Regions from separate parts of the Homo sapiens genome. Here all the other regions are reported to be linked to region 3. Evidence: microRNA targets listed by miRTarBase, many of them from high-throughput screens and not tested one by one. Region 3 holds a microRNA gene; each other region holds the end of a gene's coding sequence. Distances are from middle to middle.
Evidence for each region. Region 3 holds the annotated microRNA hsa-miR-4251 (CCUGAGAAAAGGGCCAA, at 2,093-2,109, opposite strand). A microRNA usually pairs through its seed, bases 2 to 8, with sites in the 3' UTR of a target mRNA and lowers its output. Matches are read on the target gene's strand: a 7mer-m8 pairs with bases 2 to 8, a 7mer-A1 pairs with bases 2 to 7 and ends in A, and an 8mer does both.

Region 1: the mRNA of ZNF260 is a reported target of hsa-miR-4251. Seed matches in the 3' UTR shown: 7mer-A1 at 2,433-2,439.
Region 2: the mRNA of MIER1 is a reported target of hsa-miR-4251. Seed matches in the 3' UTR shown: 7mer-m8 at 2,858-2,864.

Annotation. Positions count from the first base shown.
Region 1 is chr19:36,510,584-36,514,583 of GRCh38, forward strand. ZNF260 (zinc finger protein 260) reads right to left here. Exons shown (of 3, transcript NM_001166037.2): 3 at 104-4,000. The coding sequence ends at 3,417. Among named protein-coding and RNA genes, the nearest start is that of ZNF260, 16 kb to the right of the region's middle.
Region 2 is chr1:66,984,185-66,988,184 of GRCh38, forward strand. It overlaps MIER1 (MIER1 transcriptional regulator), which reads left to right. Exons shown (of 14, transcript NM_001077700.3): 14 at 388-4,000. The coding sequence ends at 716. It also overlaps a transcript of SLC35D1 not described here. Among named protein-coding and RNA genes, the nearest start is that of MIER1, 61 kb to the left of the region's middle. RefSeq lists silencers at 352-401, 389-589.
Region 3 is chr1:3,125,968-3,130,117 of GRCh38, reverse strand. It overlaps MIR4251 (microRNA 4251), which reads right to left and starts at 2,143; the gene lies at 2,083-2,143. The region is part of intron 1 of PRDM16 (PR/SET domain 16); the gene reads right to left. RefSeq lists enhancers at 954-1,879, 3,323-3,933.

The DNA of each region.
Region 1 (4,000 bases), not on the chromosome of region 3:
GACTCTGACAACATCTATTAAAAATTTTAAAATAACATCAATCCTTTGATCTACCAATCCCTTCCCTGTAATCTGACCCACAGAAATAAAAACAACTGAAATCTAAGGGGTGATTACATGAATTTTTATTGTACCATTTCTTATGGTGGCAAATAAGCAAACTGTGAGTAAACGAGGGCAGCTGAATAAATTTACAGTATACAATATTAGAGAATATTATGTTGCAATTGCTCATCTTACTCTGACCATCATAATCATTCTTTTTGCTGGGTCCAGGACCATGGCTAACTCATGGCACAAAAAGCTAGTCCTGGTTTGGTCTGAATTTGAGTCCTAGTTATTCTGGTGACTTCAAGGCTACCCAAGCACATGGGCAAAACACTTAAAAAATATGAAAGATTATTTAAGTAAAGCAAAATGAGGAACAGAAGAAGACAGTTTAGATTCATGTACACATACATATATTTTATTTGGGTATATTACCTCAGAAAATCAACAACTGTCATTTTCAATCTTATCTCAAGACCAACCTTCAGAAATGCTAGTAAGTGCTACAGTAATATTAACATTATATTGAGTTTAAAAGAAATTAATATATTTAAAATCAGTCTAAGGTTTTAATGCTGTATACCCATTTTCATAATCATTCAAAAACATCAGGCCGGGCACGGTGGCTCACGCCTGTAATCCCAGCACTTCGGGAGGCCAAGGTGGGCGGATCACCTGAGGTCGGGAGTTCAAGACCAGCCTTTGGAGAAACCCCATCTCTACTAAAAATACAAAATTAGCCAGGCGTGGTGGCTCACACCTGTAATCCTAGCACTTTGGGAGGCCGAAGCAGGTGGATCACCTGAGGTCAGGAATTCAAGACCAGCCTGGCCAACATGGTGCAACTCCGTCTCTACTAAAAATACAAAATTAGCCGGGCATGGTGGCGCATGCCTGTAATCCCAGCTACTCAAGAGGCTGAGGCAGGAGAACCACTTGAACCTGTGAGGCAGAGGTTGCAGTGAGCCAAGATTGTGCCATTGCACTGCAGCCTGGGCAACAAGAACAAAACTCCGTCTCAAAAAAAAAAAAAAATCATTAGTAGCGTTCTCTGTCAGTTTATTGTGGAAAGAAATCAAGTAAACAAATTCTCAAAAAGATTTGCTTCAAATAAGAGAACACTGTTTAGGTGGAAGATCTCCTTTTTCAGCACGGTCTTCCCAAGGTAACAAGGGGGTTGGGATTGACTTGGGTGTGTCTGACATAATTGAGAAAGAAATTTAGTCTGCAGGTTAAAAGTGAAGCTGAAATCCAGGAGTTAATGTTTTCCTCAATGGCTTATAAAAAAATTGAAGAGTGACACAGTTTTCTCATTTTAAAAGTGGCTAATTTCTAATGCTAATACTGGTTATGCAGAGTATTAAAATTTCTGATAAATGTTTTAGTAAAAACTAATTCTCTCCATGTCTGTGCATATATTATTTAATAATATGATCCTTAAATGTATGTGATCCAACCAATCTGTGGCAAATCATAACCTCCAAGACTATATACAGATTAGAACTACGTACAGATTATGTAAAATTTACTCTTGTGACACATGAGTTATTTTAATTGAATTTAAGTTGCCACCCCAATTAAAAATTATTTCATATTTTAAAGATAAGATTTTAGAAATATCTTCTACAGAATATTAGTATCTGACTAGGAATGTAAGTCCATTATGTTTCATGTACAGCTTCCTCACTCCTATCTGGACTTTTTAACTTTCAGAAGTTTAAGGAAATAAATAGCACGAATGATAGAATGAACACAAATATTACCACCACCCAGAATTAATATTTCGTTATGTTTACTTAGAATGTTTCTTTTTAATAAGAAATAGATACAAAATTGAAGTATCCTTTAACTACCATGCTTGGTAACATTTCCCTTCCACCTCCTTTCTTCCTAGAGGTAACCACTCCACTTTTGGGAACTGAGTATATACATATCCTTTCAATCCATTCTTTAGTTTTACATAATTTATCCATAACCAATTCTTAGTACTAGGGCTGGTTAGTGTTGATTTTATTCAAATTCACAGAAGCATCATTACAATATGTTCATCATTTTTCTTCACTCTAATTTTTTAAAAATATTTCTGTTAATATATAGACTTAATTTGTCACTTAACTGCTAGAGAGTACTCTACTATGTTACTATCACATTTTATTCATCTATTTCACAAGAGACAGCATTTGTTTCCCAACTTCTGGCTACTATAACTCATGGTGCAATGAACTATACAGCTATAGACCAGTACATGACTCCCTGTGTTCATGTTTCTTGGGTAGATGCATATATATAGTAGTTCCCCCTTATCCACAGCTTTGCTTTCCATGGTTTCAGTTACCTGTAGTCACCACAGTTCATAAATAGTTGAGAACAGTACAATAAGGTATTCTGAGAGAAAGATCATATTCACATAACTTTTATGATTACAGTATATTGTTATAATTGTTCCATATTATGTTTATTATTGTTTTAAATCTCTTGCTGTGTCTAATCTGTAAACTAAATTTTATCATAGGTATGTATATATAAGAAAAAAACATAGACATAGAGTTTGGTCCTATCTGGGTTTTAGGTATCCACTGGGGGTCTTAGAGTCCATCTCTTGCAGAAAATAGGGGACTACCATACTCAAGAGTGGAACTACCGGGTATTCTGGAATGTTTTAGAAGTTCTTTCCTGCCCTAAGGTTTTAAAAACATCTTCTTATAAAACTGTTATATTATTAAGTATTGCTTTTTGCATTTTAGTCTTTAGTACTTTAAGAATTCATAAGAAAAATATTTTATATTATGATGGGAGATATTATTTTTCCATATGAAGAGTCAATTAATTTTTAAGTAATCCATGATTTCCCCACCAATCTGGGATACCGCCTCTATCAATTACCAATTCCCCATATATTCATGCACACATTTCTGAATTCAATATTCTGTCTCAGTCTCAGTTTTATGACTGCTTCAACAACAAATAATTTTGATGATTCTAGTTTTACAATTCATATATGTAGCAAAACATCACAAAAATGATAATTTTGTCTCTTAATTTCAAATCCTCATACATCTCATATCTATTTCTTAATGCATCTGTAGGCCTTCCAGGAACACATTAAGTAGTGTCCATGACTAGATCCTAACTTTAATGAGTATACTCCTAGAAGTACAGCATTGATAATGCTTGTTGTGGGAGTTTTGGGGGTACGGGTTTTCTTTACACTATAATACTTATTAAACATCATAGTATTTAAGTTTTGAATTGCTGCTGAAGGACTTCCCACATTCATGTCACTTTAATGTAAAATGAATTTTCCAATACACTATTAAGTGTAAAATCTGCTGAACGTTTTGCTAAATCCAAGGCATTCATAGAGAACTTTAATGAGTATGAATTCTCTGGTGTCTAATGTGATGTGACTTTTGGCTGAAAGCTTTCCCACATTCACTACACTGATAAGGTTTTTCACCAGTATGGATTCTCATGTGCAGAGCAAGGGTTGAGAACTGAGAAAAGGCTTTCCCACATTCATTACAACCATAGGGTTTCTCACCTGTATGGCTTCTCATATGCACAGTAAGAGATGAGCTTTGACAGAAGGCTTTCCCACAGACCTTACACTCATAAGGCTTATCACCTGTATGAATTCTCACATGTACAATAAGTGATGTGATTCGAGAGAAGGCTTTTCCACATTTATTACATTCATAGGGTTTCTCTCCTGTATGAATATTGTGATGTTTAATGAGGTATTGCTTCTGCCTGAAGATTGTTCCACATTCATTACATTTGTAGGGTTTCTCTCCAATATGAATTTTCTCATGCTCTGTGAGATTTGACTTGCCACTGAAGGCTTTCCCACATTCCTTACACGTATAAGGTTTCTCTCCTGTGTGACTTCTCTGGTGTCTAATGAGGCTTGACTTCTGAATGAAAGCTTTCCCACACCCTTTACATTCATAAG
Region 2 (4,000 bases), 64 Mb from region 3:
GAGTAATTTACTGCATTTTCCATTAATTCAGCTTAGTTAGACTGCTGGATCCAGTGCTTGTTTGCTGTCACATATACCTAATATGCTTTTAACATATGCCAAATTCTGTTCTTAGTTCTTTACATTTATTAACTTATTTAATTTTCACAACAACCCTGTGAGGAATATCTATTATGATCTTCATTGTATATATGTAATGAAATGGAGATACAGAAAGAGTAAATAATTTGCCTAAGGCGACATAGCTTATAAGTAATAGAGCAAGAATTTAGACTATGTATTTGATACCTTGCTTCCTTGATAACAATAACTACAAGCTGTTTTATAATAGTTTGCAAATTTAACTTTTTTCTAATTGTGGTTTCATTTATATTTCTTTCAACTTAGGAGTGTCATCTAATGGACCAGGTGAAATATTAAACAAAGAGGAAGTAAAAGTTGAAGGGTTACACATTAATGGACCAACAGGTGGAAATAAGAAACCACTTCATGCAGATATGGATACTAATGGTTATGAAACAGATAACCTTACCACTGACCCAAAACTTGCCCATATGACTGCAAGAAATGAAAATGATTTTGATGAAAAAAGTGAGAGACCTGCCAAAAGGCGAAGGGTAAACAGCAATGGAAAAGAAAGTCCAGGTTCTTCTGAATTTTTCCAAGAAGCAGTCTCACATGGGAAATTTGAAGAACTTGAAAACACAGATGACTAAATTTTAGACCTATTTTACTTTCTTTGGAGTAAATTCTGGTGTGACTAAAATTTTCAGGGTTGATGGGTTACCTTAAAAAGTTGATTTCCTTGAAGCAGTTTGAAAATTTGAATTGAGTCTTAACTTTAGGAAATGAGGTTTCATAATTCTGCCTTTTGCAGATTTTTTTACTTTAAAGCTGTCAGACTCTTTTAAGGGTATTTTAAAAATTAGTAAATTTGAATGAACTAAAGATATATCTCTACCTTCTCATTTGAATATCTTTAGTTCATTCAGATTTACTAATTTTGGTAAATCTGAATGAACTAAAGATGTATCTGTACCTTCTCATTTGATGTATTAATCATAAAATTTCACTACAAGGTAATTTTTGCTTAGTTTGATGGATGAATGGGAAACTCAAGTCCAAATTTCTGCTTAATACCAATTTCTCTGAGTTTCTTGAAATGTCTTTAAAACAGACATTTTTCTCACCAAACAGTTTGAGTATCTTTATTAAGGAAACCCTTACGAATCCTGAAAATTATGCTAGCATGATTTTTTTATATATAGAAGTTTAAAAATAAACCAGGTCAGGTTTGTATATGTAAAATTGTTGACATCAATGATGTCTTTCCATATTCTTATCTGGGCTTAAGAAATACATTCTGTATTTTTCCAGATTCTTTGTAGCCTTTGAAAGATTTTTACAGTACATATGTCTTGACTGAGCTGTCCTTTCTTAATACAAAAGCGTGTATAATTTTCTTAACTTGTACAGTTGGTAAACTTTTATGAGAGGAATTGTTATTCTGAGTCTGTCAGCTTTCATTTTATTTTGCTAAGGTTTTTCTAATGAATTTTTAAGTGTTTGTGTAGTAATTAAGTCATATTTCTTATCCAGGTGGTTAAAGCATTCATAAAGGATTATAAAATTTTTTTTTTTTTTTTTTTTTTTAAATTTCTACTTAAGGGCAAGTAATTTGAGAATTCTGAAATTAAGCATGATGCTTAGATTGCAGTTTGTTTTGCATTTGCTATAATTTTCAAAATTATTTTTGAAGCAAGACAAAAGTTTAATGTCAGCTTAAGTGCTTAAATATATCATGCTGACCAGAATCCTGTTATTTTTATATGCATCATAAAATTTCCCATTTCTGCATTAAATAAACAGAGGAGGGGGGTCAAGTGATACTTAGATATTGGCACACACAAGGAACAACTGTTGGCAGGCAGTATCGATTTTATGAAGAGAAAGTGAAGTTTGAAAACTTTTCAAACTTTTCTAGTTACAATCCAATTTTTCAGATTTGATAATGCTTTTCCAAAGTGAAAATAAGATACACAATAATCATTGCTCTGTGTGATTACAGATAGGATTATCCATCTGCATAGCCTTGTAAAAGTGCCATTTTATTTTTAGTGCTAAATTCTTGTTAAATAATGTAGTTTTATATAGCTGATAGACCAACCTATATCCAAACTTTTATAAAATATTAATTATTCTTGTTTTTCTCACACAGGCATACTCCAAATGCTTCTTCCAGTTCATTTTTCAGCCATCAGTTCAAGAGCCAATGCCTTTTTAAAATAAAGCTTCTGTGGTCTTGTTTTTAATGGCTCAACTGTCTGATGTAATTGAGTGAAGGTTTGCACTGAGAAATTAGCATTCAGGCCTTACCCCCATGAAGTATTACTGTTAACATATGTTCGGACTGCTTCCCTTCACCAATGTGAACAACTTTTTTTCCCAAACAGTGTTAAAAGCCACTTTGCAACACTTGACTTCATCTTAATGTACATTCACTGTTGTTACATACATATCTAAGTAAATCAAAGTTTTGGGTGGAAGTGTTGAGAAGTATGAGTTTTTTGTTGTTTTTGTTTTACTTAAAACTTTTAATTTATCCAGAATGGCAGTAGCTTTAGCAAGCAGATGGTCACAATCTGTTTTCTAAATCATTTTTTATTAAATGAATCCAAAGTATCCTAGCTCTTTGTCAAAGATGGTCTGTAGAAATGTTTTTAAAGATTAGGGATGCTGTACTTTTTGAATTGTTGCAGTGTTGGAGATGCCATTTTCACCTTTTTAAAAAGATGCATTTTATTTGCAGGTTTGTGAAGTTCTTGCAAACTCTTACTACAGAAATGTTTTAAATACATTCTCAGGCATGTTTGCAAAAATATGGCACATGTATACATTTTAGGAAATGTTACTTTTGTTAATCTTTAAAAAATACACCTAATGAAAGACATTCCACTATTATGCGTAATGCTCAGCTTTTTGTAAAGAAATATTTAATTGTATTTTGTGTTTATACAGGTATTTCACACAATAATTTGTTCTTAATGCAGCCACTATAACTTGATAAGTCATTGCACTATTTAAAAAGTTTTAGTAATATCATGAATTTAATTTGCTTAAGATTTAGTACATTTCAGAACTTTTGAACTTTTGACAAATTGCATTGGAAAAAGAAGTCTGTTAATAGTGATTTAGTCTCCCCGCCTCATTCCCACCCCCAACAAAGCACTATCATTTTCATTTGGAATGGGTATTTTCTGTTTCATGATGTATTTTCAAATAGAGTTCAGGATCTGCAATTCAGTTCAACACAAGTTTGTTGAGCTTTAAAATGTATTTGAAGTAATATTTAAATAGGCATTTAAAATTTCAAATTAGATGTTAAATTTATGCATAGTAATTTTGCACTGTAAAATAATTCCCTTCTCCCATTCCTTGTCTGCCATTCTGAATATGCTTATTAAAATATTTTTTTAAACATATTTGCCTACATAATACTGTGTGAATATTTTCATTAGATTAATTCACTAAGATTTTATTAGAGATTGTTTGAATGATGCATGTTATTGACAAGGCAAATATATATATATACACAGTCTGTTTCTTCTATTCCTAGACATATTGCACTACTTTTTCAGTGGTTCTTGGTCCCCTTTACCACATCTTGGGTGATGTATTTTTGTCTTCTTCCCCTTTGCCACAAGAGATCCTTTCAGTCCCTAGACCTCCATTCACTCTGTTTCTCTTCTGCTGGATTATATAATTTAAAAATAATGTGTTCCCGTATTTTGTAGTGGAGTTCATATCACATTATGTTTTGCAAAATAAAACTTGTTTTGTCACAATATTTTCTTTGCTATCGATGGATAATTAGGAGTGGGCACTTGGAATAACTGAGGGCTGGTGAATATAATAGGCAATATTTACATGGGGTGTGTAACTAAATACCAAATCAGATAGTAAGGTTTTCCCAACTATAATCCATATTCATGAAAAATGC
Region 3 (4,150 bases):
CACTGAGCACGCAGCCCAGGACCTGTTGGGGGAGCAGGAGTCTGCCCAGGGGGTCTCCACCTCCCTCTGGGGTGCTTGGGCCTCACTGTCCCAGAACAAGCCGCCTGCACTGCCCTCCCAGCCCAGCTGGTCGCCTTGGCCCATCAACGCTTTTGGATGCCCTCAGTGGATACAAATGGCTGAGACCCTGCTGGGGCCCTGGGAAGAGGGAAAGCAAAAGCGGGAAGTAGGAGAGAGAGAGACTGAGAGAGGAGAGAAAATCAGACAGAGAGAGACAGAGAGGGGGAAAGAGAATCAGACAGGCTCCTGTTGGGAGCAGAGAAATTCTTTCCTTGGAAAAAGGGGTTCTGAAACCCCAATTCTCTTTTCTCTTCCAGGGATTTCTGCTCCGTACAGGGTCTGGGCAGTGCTAGAGGAGGACCTTGCCCCTACCTGTGGCACTGAGGGCCCTTGGGCTCTCCCACGTAACTGCGGAGGACCTGGGAGAACCTGCTTCAAGGGCCCCGGGTCCCCATCCCGTCCTGACCCTCAGCTTCAAGCACCCAGCAGGGAGGGTCTGCCCCGGCTCCTTTCCCAGGTGCCCTCAGCAGCCCTGGACGACACCCCTGTGGTTCAGCCAGTGTTGTGAGTGCACAGGCCACACACACACACACATGCACACACAGACACATGCACACCAGGAAGGATACACACACTCACAAGCACACACCAGGCAGGACACACACACACGTGCACACGCACCCACACACTCACCCACGTGCGCACACACACACAACCAGGCAGGACACACACCCACACACACACCAGGCAGGACACTGACACGCACACACCAGGCAGGACACACACACACATGTACACACCCACACACACGCACCCACATGCACATACCAGCCAAGACACACACATACATGTACACATATCCACACACCCACACACTAGGCAGGATCCACACCCACCCACACACGCACGCCAGGCAGGACACCCACACACGCACGTGCACACTCACCCATGCACGCACACCAGCCAGGAAACGCACACACATGCACACGCAACCCCCCACACACACATGCACCAGACTCCCTCCTGGTTTCCTGCTAGGGGAGCAGCGACCACACCCCAGCCTCCCCAGGGCCACCCTCCTCATCTCATCTGCACAGTCGCTCCCACTTCCCAGATGAAGAAACCAAGGCTGCCGGCCACGGCTGCGCACCCCCACCTGGGGCCAGGGCAGGCTCCCCAGGACTGGTGTTAGTGAGGGCCGAACAGTTCCAGCTCCCAGCAGGGCACTCACTGGGCTGTGGATAGCTGTCCACTCTTCAGGCTACGCCCAAGGATTCCAGTAAGGGAACCAGAGCCATTGGAGCGTTGCCACCACCGGAAAACAGCCACCGACCCGGGTGGGATGGTCTCCAGTAGCATGGTGGGATGGTCTCCAGTAGCATGGTGGGAGGAACAGGGCAGTCCACAGAGGGCTGGACGCTTCCTTCCACAGCTCACCGGCCGGTCACCGTGGCCGATCACCCTCTGGGTTCCCGAGTGAGAGTCCTCGGCCCTCATGCCCTGAGCCTGCAGGTCACCATTGTGGGAGAAAATGGAGCCACTGTGGAGCCACCCCAGGGTCCTGGGTGCGGAGCCATGCGGAGGGAGGGTTTTCAATGCCCTGCTACTGTGACCTGCGTTTCCCAAAGCCGTGCATGGGATGTCGTGATCAGAAAAAGGCAGGACAGAAGCAACCCCCGAATACTATAAATGCCACTTTAACTGGGATAAAATAGGAAATCAAAGTTGATCTGACGACCCCAGACTTTCTAGGACAAGGCACCCAGTGTTGAAAGTGAGCAGCAGATTCCCACGGCTGCCTCTTGGCCCCGTCAAACGTGAGGTCTTTGTTTCCCTCTCAGAAGAGAGATCACGGGTCTGTCATCACAGGGCATGGGTACGGAACCAGACCCAGATCTAGTCTTCAATTTCCGAACACTCAGAATGACTGTCTCTCTCCAGTGAGAGGCGGAGTTGATCCCTCCACAGCGGGGCTGACGGGGGAGGGGAGGAGATTTTCATACAAGTGCCCTCTGAAGTGGATGGAAGCACGTTGGCCCTTTTCTCAGGAATTGGCCACTAAGGAAAAAAGCTGGAGGACGTGTTCCCAGATGCCAGAAGGCTGACCAGAGGCGGGAGCCCCTCCTCCATGGCCACAGCACCCAGGCTTCTGTTCCAGGAAGCCAGGCCCCTTGATGGGCAGCCAAGCGCCTGCAGCCTCCCCGAACCCAGGGCTCATGGCCTGCCCGCCTCCCACTGTCCCCCCACACCATGGGGACGCTCTGCCTTTATGGGGCAGGCCTCAGGCCTTCACACTCACCCTAGGCAAACCGGCCTCTCGCTCAGAGATTCAGGCCGGGCCTCTGCACCGCAAGGGGGACATGGCCCAGGGGGGTCCCTCTCAACCCTCGTCCTACTGTCCTGGGCACTGGGGAAAGCAGTGGCCCTGAGCATCTGTATCAGTTTACAGGCAGAATGGATCTGCTTAGCAGCCAGTCTTCCAAAATGAAACCAGAAACCAGGTCTAATCATTTGAGCTCGATAAAGATTCCCCAAGTGCCCGGGGAAGCTAGGCTGTGGCTCGCTGGTAACTGGTTTGCTTTCTCTCCAGACACACAGATCGTGCAAGCAATAAAATGAAATACGTTGGCTGCACCCACAATGTGAAGGGGTGGGGGATCTATCTCACGAGGGCATCGTCTGGGTAAGATGATATCAGATGTAGCAAACAAGAAAAGCAAGGTTCCAGAAACCAACATATATCAGCTTTTGGCAAAGCCTGCGCACCGCCGTTATGCATTTTAAATAACTCGATGCCAAATCGTAACAGGCTGTCCTTGCCAGAAACCATGAGAGGTCAAGCGAGGATCGCAGAAGAGTGCAAAGATTTGTCTTTAGAAAGCACAGTGCTGAAATCTATTTTGAGTTTTGCAAAACAAGAGACCGTCTGGGCCTCTCTCTCTTTTCCTTGGCCTTTCCCTTTTCATTTTAAAACTAACATCTAAGTCTCGTCCCCACTGCAGGCCTCCAGCTCGGGGCCCAGGCTGGGCTGAGCCAGAGTGTGAGGACAGGACCCTAGCAATTGTGTCCGGGGCCGATGGTGGTCCTGCCCTGCTCCCAGGCTCGAGGGGCCTCCCAGCTGAGTCCAGAGTAAGCTCTCGATCCCCTAAAGTTTGCCGGAACAGACAGCGGGCCCGGGCCTGACACCAGAGCAACCATGCCCCATCTACAACGCTTCTGCACAGAATCAGAAGCCCTTCTGGAATCTTCCTGTCTCTGCCTTTTCGAGGTGCTGTGACCATCACTGGCGATGGGCACCTCATTGTCCCAGGCCCAGTGGGGAGCCCACCTCCAGGACTGGTTCCTGTCTACTCCTCCCTCACTCCAGAAGCACCAGCCCTACAGGGCAGGGTCCCTGACAGAGCCCAGGGCTGGAGGCTCCTGGTCCAGTCCCCAGCCCTCTGCCCACCACAGAGCTCAAGCACGGTAGGCCACTGCTTGGGATTGGGTACAGGCCCCTGGGTTTTCAAAGCTCATCTAGGGATTCCAGGAACCGCAGCAGGGTCTGGGTCCACCTGATCTGACCTGACTGTCCCTCGTTGAGGGCTGTCTGGACCCCAGGTGCTGCCTGCAGGTAGCCAGGCCTGTCCCTTCCTGCGCACCTGCAGCCAGCTCCTCCGGCCTTGCCCTGTCCACCTGAGCAGTGGACTGAGCCCCCGGGGGCATGGGAGAGACCTGGGGAGGAGGATGCCATTGGCACCTGTGGCCAGGGCTGGCCTGGGGCCAGACTGGCCGACACTGTTCCCAGGCACAGCCAGGCTGGCCGCGTGCGGCGGCGGCGAGAGCTGCGGGGACCGACTGTGCCTCTGCAAGCCCAGGGGAGCTGGGCCGGGAAGAGCGGCCAGCGGCGCCCGGGCCCACAATGGCCCCTTTCTCCCCGCGTTTATTGAGACAGTTCGGTTTGGAATATTTAAACAGTTGTATATTCACAGATTGCAAGAGGGAGAGGATTACCTAAGGACGAGCCAGCCCGATCAATGCATAATCAGATAACTGCCCGGGCTCTCTACAAGGTTTCACAGGAAGATCCGCCACTCAAACGCTAATTCCT